Homo sapiens: one gene and its partner. The protein of the gene in region 2 interacts with the protein of the main gene of each other region in a biochemical or structural test. Each region holds a gene or a part of one and is shown on either strand. Other genes may lie near its edges.

What was found. Proteins that work in one complex are often made in the same cells at the same time.
Region 1: the proteins of GAB1 (region 2) and BTK form a complex in vitro, tested with the Homo sapiens proteins (one large-scale study listed by BioGRID and IntAct).

Annotation. Positions count from the first base shown.
Region 1 is NC_000023.11:101,376,192-101,379,691, reverse strand, and holds part of BTK (tyrosine-protein kinase BTK), read left to right. Parts: intron 1-1,668; exon of another isoform or gene 1,669-1,833; intron 1,834-3,500. UniProt on the Homo sapiens protein: Non-receptor tyrosine kinase indispensable for B lymphocyte development, differentiation and signaling. Binding of antigen to the B-cell antigen receptor (BCR) triggers signaling that ultimately leads to B-cell activation.
Region 2 is NC_000004.12:143,409,876-143,413,375, forward strand, and holds part of GAB1 (GRB2-associated-binding protein 1), read left to right. Parts: intron 1-3,500. UniProt on the Homo sapiens protein: Adapter protein that plays a role in intracellular signaling cascades triggered by activated receptor-type kinases. Plays a role in FGFR1 signaling. Probably involved in signaling by the epidermal growth factor receptor (EGFR) and the insulin receptor (INSR).

The DNA of each region.
Region 1 (3,500 bases), on a different chromosome or scaffold from region 2:
TGGAGAATGACAGGGGCCCCAAGGCAGATGGCATCAACCTCATCAAAGACCAAAAAACAAATAAACGAACAAAAATCCCTCCGGTAGGCAGTGAAACACCACAAAAAAAGCAAGGGCTATAGATGATATACCAAGAGCTACAGATGGATGAGGTTGGACAAGTCACATAACCTCTGTGTCAGTTTCCTCATCTGTTTGTTGTGAGGAATAAATGAAATAATGCCTGTAAAATGCCTGTCAGGTAGAAGTCACTGAAAGGAACAGAAGTTCCATTCCATCCCCCTAAGGAAAGACAGGGAATGGCCAGAATCTTCCTAGCCAATTGAGTAGTGCTTTCAAGGAGAAATCAAGAGAAAACACTACTTCTTGGATATTTTGGCTAAGTAGTCATTTGAAGTACAGTTGACTGGTTATTTTATTTTAAATCATATCTCATAGACTCTTCCCAATCATAGGCTGGCTGTGTAGTTTTCTGAATTTTGCTCTGGTATTCTTCTTCTTTTTTTTTTTTATTTTTATTTTTTATTTTTTTTTTGAGACTCCAGGCTGGAGTGCAGTGTCACGATCTTGGCTCACTGCAACCTCCGCCTCCCGAGTTCAAGCGATTCTCCTGCCTCAGCCTCCTGAGTTGCTGGGACTACAGGCGCCTGTCACCACGCCCGGCTAATTTTTTGTATTTTAATAGAGACGGGATTTCACCATGTTGGCCAGGCTGGTCTCTAACTCCTGACCTCAAGTGATCCGCCAGCCTCAGCCTCCCAAAGTGCTGGGATTACGGGCATGAGCCACTGCGCCTGGACTTATTATTCTTAATAGTATTTTATCTTATGAGCGAAGATAAGAGCCCAAGATGGTTTAGTTTACTGATTCTGCAAGTGCTATTTCTATTAATTCCTTGGCATACTGCAGTTTGTATGATGGCTGCACTCTTGTTAATAAGCTTCGTCTTTCTGAATTCTGTTGCTCCATAGGGAGCTGGGAGGCTGCAAAAGGTGGCCCTGTAAAAATCTTTGCATTTATAATTTAATAAAGGGGACATTGTAACACTGGAACTCCATATTTTAAATGAAGAGCTCTGTGTCTATTTTTTCTCCTCCCCCATTTCTTTCTTTCTATAAACAACAGTGGTGTGTGTGTGTGTGTGTGTGTGTGTGTGTGTGTGTCTGTATGTTTGAGACATTCAAGTCACTTCCATTTCCACCCTTCACCCTGAGTGGAGCTCAGGGTTAGCCATCATTGTGCATATTTTGTGGTCAAACCGACTCTGTAGGCTACTGAAATTGTTTTAAAAAAATTGGGGCCTTTACTGGCCAGGCACGGTGGCTCATACCTGTAATTCCAGCACTTTGGGAGGCCAAGGTAGGCAGGTCACCTGAGGTCAGGAGTTCAAGACCAGCCTGGCCAACATGGGGAAACCCCACCTCTACTAAAAATACAAAAATTAGCCAGGTGTGGTGGCACACGCCTGTAATCCCGGCTACTTGGGAGGCCGAGGCAGGAGAATTGCTTGAACCCAGGAGATGGAGGTTGCAGTGAGCCAAGATCGTGCCACTGCACTCCAGCCTGGGCAACAAAGCAAGATTCCGTCTCAAAAAAAAAAAAAAAAAATGGGGCCTTTCACAATAAGTACCCACAGAAGCTTTACCCTCTAACTACTTTTTAACTCAGAGCTGTGTGTTACACACCAACCTTCTGGAGGACTCAAAAATGGATCCCTTTCCTTTCACATTATTGAGTGATGGACCAGTGGCACCTAAGGAAGAGCTACCACATTTTCAGGCTGTGTGAGTCTGGACTGGATCATAAGAAACAGGAGAAAAGCAGTCAAAGAAGGTGGTACCAAATCATGGCAATTCTGGTAGACCTCTAGCTCAATGATCTAGAGGTGGAGGCCATTTCACCTTTTGCTCAGAGGGGCGATGGCTAGTGAGAGACTTGCTTACTTCCTCATAGTCAGAGCAGCACTAAACCCTGCCCAAACACAGATACTTGAGAGAGAGGAAGACTTCCTCTTGTACAAACTGGATTTGTTCTAAAACAGAGAAAGAGTAGAGGCAGCTTCCAGAAGGACCTGTCTTATAGGAAGTAAGAGCAGGGGACAAGAATGAAACAGATGGTGGGTCTAAGCAGGGAATGTATCCACCAAGAGCCTGCAACAAAACTAAAGATAAAATGTTGCCTGCGATTTATTCGGCTAAGAGAAGTACACCAGACATGGTTTGTTGGGATGCTTCTGACCCCATTTACTGGTCACAGTACTCAATTTATTTAGGGTTTTATTTTTTATCCTGTAATTTGAGTCTTTGATTGTGAAGAGGTACTTAATTATAATTTGCCACAAGAATAATTGTGGTATGATTACAGGGCTCTCAATGAGTTGGTAGTTCCTGAGAATAGAGTAGTATTATTTGGTTACCACTACTCCTGAGTAAATGCATAATTGTAATGTTAAAATGAACCTCTTTGAGTTTAGAGCTAAAACTGAGTGTTGGGAAGGGCTGATTGTAAACTCATCAATTTGTCACTCCAGTGAGAGACCATTTAAACCAGGGAGTCAGGGTGTGTGGCAGGGTGGAGGGAAAGGTTTGCACTCTTGCCCAATTTTTCTCAAAATCTAATTTACAAAATATTGAATTAATCCACCTCCAGAAGATAGTGGCATACACATGGTAGATAAGTGGCAAAGCGATCTTCCAGAACACCCCTGGTGTTCCTTTGACGTATTTTCGTCTCCCCAGCATGAGAATAGAACCTCCTACACCACAGGAAAGAGCAAAATAACAGTGTGGATAGCCCCCAGGCTTTGATAAAATTCACTCCCTTGCTTTCCTAGTGTGAGCAATAATCTGCTTAAAAAGTAGAAAAAAACTGCTGGCTTTATTCATTCTGCTTCCACGGTGCCACCAAAAGCATAAGGAGTTTACTTAAAAAATAGACACATTCCCACCCCCACCCCCCCACCAGAGGAAAAATCCCTACCACTAATTAAACTTGAATGGAGGGCTGGTGGTTTTTTCGTTACTTACTTAGTGTTTTTTTGTTGTTGTTTTTGATTTTGTTTTTTGAGACGGAGTTTCGCTCTTGTTGCCCCGACTGGAGTATAATGGCACAATCTCGGCTCACTGCAACCTCCGCCTCCTGGGTTCAAGCGATTCTCCTGCCTCAGCCTCCCGAGTAGCTGGGATTACAGGCATCCACCACTACGCCCGGCTATTTTTGTATTTTTAGTAGAGACGGGGTTTTGCCATGTTGGCCAGGTTGGTCTTGAACTGTTGACCTCAGGTGATCCGCCAGCCTCGGCCTCCCAAAGTGCTGGGATTACAGATGTGAGCCACCGCGCCGGCCTAGTGTTCTATTTTTATGACAGCATTTGTTTTCACTTTATCTTTCCAATGAAAGTTCGGAATTAGTAATAATATTACACTGTGCATAAACTGTAAGTGAATAACTGATATGAAGTGTTGCTTGGTGTGAATAAAAAAGCCAGTGGTGACTTTGGG
Region 2 (3,500 bases):
TTTTGTTTTTGAAATTTTACTTTAAAGAGCAATATAATCCTATTGATTGGATCTATGGTTCTTAATCATGGTGGCACATTAGAATCATCTGTTGAGTGTTTAAACCTGCCTATTCCAATCTTCACCCCACCCCCATACACTACAATTTAGTTGGCTTAAGGTGAAACCCCAAGCTTTTTTTTTTTTTAAGCAAAGCTCTCCGGATATTTCTAATGTGCATTCAGGGCAGAGAACCCATGGACTACCCCCGACCTCTTCTCTGATCTTCTCTCTTGCCTGCCCATATATTGGCCACTTCCTCAATAATTAGCTCTTCCAGTAAAGGTACAGGGAAAAGATGAGGGAATTTTGGCAAGCATCACACCAGGCATGTGAGCTGTCATTTATACCACAGAGAACTCACAAAACAGGGTGTACAGCAGTTACAATGTTTTTCTTTAAAGCTGAAGCCATTTGCTAGTTAGGTTAATTAGGCAAAATTTGTGAATTTGTTAGTAACGTTACAGCCATATAGGCAAAATTTGTGAATTTGTTAGTAATATTACAGCCATTAATGGCTTGGGGTTAATCCAGGTTAAAAAATGTTTCCTTCCCACCAAATAGTGGGACTCCCATCTGTACTTTCTTGCCAGTATGTACATACCCATACTCTAGGGTGTGTGATAAGCCTGCCTTAAGACCTAGCTTCAGTGTGACAGTTCTACAGGTGAGCATATCCAATTTGCTAAATACAGGAAATGTTTAAAAGAATAGTTCTTTTAAAATGATGTTTAAAAACATCTCTCTTATGTCTGTAGAGTTTTAAAAACAAATTAATTTGTTTACACACCTCTATGCTTGCCTGACCAATTCTTGAATGGGCTGGGCAGATCGCAGTTATATCACTATCCCTGCAATGCATAAATAGTATGAGAACTTCTGTATTTTTAATCCTTGCCTCAAACATTTTGTATTGCGTATTTAGCAGACATTGACTGAGCACCTCCTTGGCGCTAGGCAATGGGAAAGGAAAGAAGAAAGGTTAAAATGGCTCCAGCCCTCAGTACATTCAAATGCACAGATGTCAAATGATTTAGGAAAAAGGTGGAAATGGAGAGCTCAGAGCCAACTCGGATGGTGCCCCGAAGAGGGCTGAGCTAAATCTAGGGGGTAGATTTTGTGCCAAGGGGTGAGAGGCAGGACAGAGCAGAGTGTTTGGGAAACTACAAGTATTTCCAATGTGGTTGGAAGGCAGAGGGGCAAGAAGTGACGCTGGAGAGATTTAGGGGTGGAGATGGGGCGGGAGTTGATTGGAGGGTCCTGTGTACCCTGCCAGAGTTTGGGTTTTATCCTGTAGGCACAGGGGGCAGTCACTGAGCATAGGGAATTGGCTTCAGAATTTGGTACTTTTAAGTTACCCCAAAATCCAGACTTAACTGTTGACTTCTTGTTAACAAATTATTTGTTCAACTCAAAATTGGAGTGACTATTGCATATAAGAAATGGCTACAAAATAAGTTTTTACATAGTCCTTCTCAACTATGCAGACATCTTGCAAATTTCAGCTTCTTCATTACCTGCTCGTAATGGAAGTCTAGTCGTTAAAATGATTTTTTGTGTGAATTTCTTTTAAAATTACTTTGAGTATTTGGTTTTGAAGGTTTCTAGAAAGCCTGTCCTTTTTGTCTGCTCCTGCTCTGCAGGATTGGCAAGGCAGTGTACGGCTTTCTCTGGAGCTACCAAGGCAGCAAGGATAAAAATAGGACAAACTTTAAGAATCTCAGATATTTTCAGATAACAAAGACTGATTTATGTGGGCCCGTTTTGTGCTCTGACAAAACATAGAGACGCTTTTGTGCTGTGATTAGCAAGGGTGCTGATGTCAGTTCTCTTGTCGAGCATCAAGCTTTATTCTGTGGCTAAATTGTGCTTTGTACCATAATCCAGAGAACCTTTGTATCTGCCTTATTAAAGTGTGTAGTTTATGTAATTGCTTTTGTTTTCCAGCTTAATCTGTGCCAGATTCAATGAGGGTGACTCATTTTGTGACTGAGACAAACATTCACATTTGGACCATGTTAAAAATAAATAAATAAATGGCAGGTGCTGCTTGGCTAAATTCTGTGTTTTAATGCTGTAATTTCCTGCCGTAAGGGTTCACGTCTTGTATAATGTCTACTCAGCCTCTGTAATCACTAGCCCAATATATCTAATGCACCTCAATTCATTGCTACTCATTTCTTGATTATTTATTTTAGTTCCTAAGGGCTTTTTGAATTGTAACAATGTGATTTCAACAGGGAAGCCAAGGAATGGATGGGGGGGAGCCACAGTTAGCCGGAAAACAAAGAGTGACACATAAGCTGTAGCAAAAGGACATGTTCTGTGCTTTTCTGTTTTTGCCATTTTCCCAAGATGTTTTGTGCATGTGTTTTGGTAAAGTTGTCTTAGTTATGTTTATTTTATTATGTATATGTTCAGTATTGGAGCTCTTTTTCTCAAGTGGAAGATGCTTTGAAAGCACTCTCTTCATTGTGGCCCATGTATCAAATCTAATCTCAAAAATTTTACAAGTCTACTCTCTCAGGAGAATTCTGTTTATTTATTGTACAGATATGCTATGTACTAGGCACTGTGCTATGGCAAATAAAGCAGGCGTGGTCACTATCTTCTTGAACTTTTCAGTCTGTTTGGGGAGTTACGTACTACACAAATAAATACAAAGAAAAATTGAATTGCAAAATTACACAAATCACTACGTAGGTAAGTAATAGGATCTCTAAAACTATGCTATTAGTTTACACTGGAGTTGGTTGCATTGAGGGTGGTCAGGGAAGAGAAGCCCTGAAGGTTGGAGTTGGCCAGGCAAAAAGTGAGGGAAAGAATATAATGTATTTAGGGGAAAACATGTGCAAAGTCCCTGAGGCAGGTAAGAGTTTAGCCTCCTATAAACCCTATTATTGGAGGGGGAAAAGTGACAGTTGATGGAAATTGAGAGAAAAAAGACAGGAAACTGTATTTAAAAGATGAACTATACAAGCATAGCAATATGGTACTATTTATTAATAGTATAGGGGCAAATGACACTCTATACAGTGCAACAGCCTCTGAGAGTCTCCTGAAGTGCAGTATAGAAATGGATGCTTACAATACTTAGTCTGAATCATTGGGGAATGGATTATGTTTGGTGAAGTATGTAGTAAAGCATTTTAGAAAGATTTGCGTGCAAGACAATAAAGTTTTAAAAAGTCATTTCTGTATTTAAAGATGAAGCTTCACTATCTGGAGAAATCACTTACTGAATGATATGATTTCTTGAGGGCCCTGCATAAATAACATCATATTTTATATTCTTTTGCTTTACTTCTGCATTACTTTTTAAAGCTTACTGCTTGAGAGGGAAGTATCCATAGAGGGATAATTTTACTAAGAGATGATATTTATTTATTTTGCAGTAAGTAGATGCATATTCAATGAATGGATTTTTATAGTCCAGAAAACAGTGCTAAAATCATGTGAAT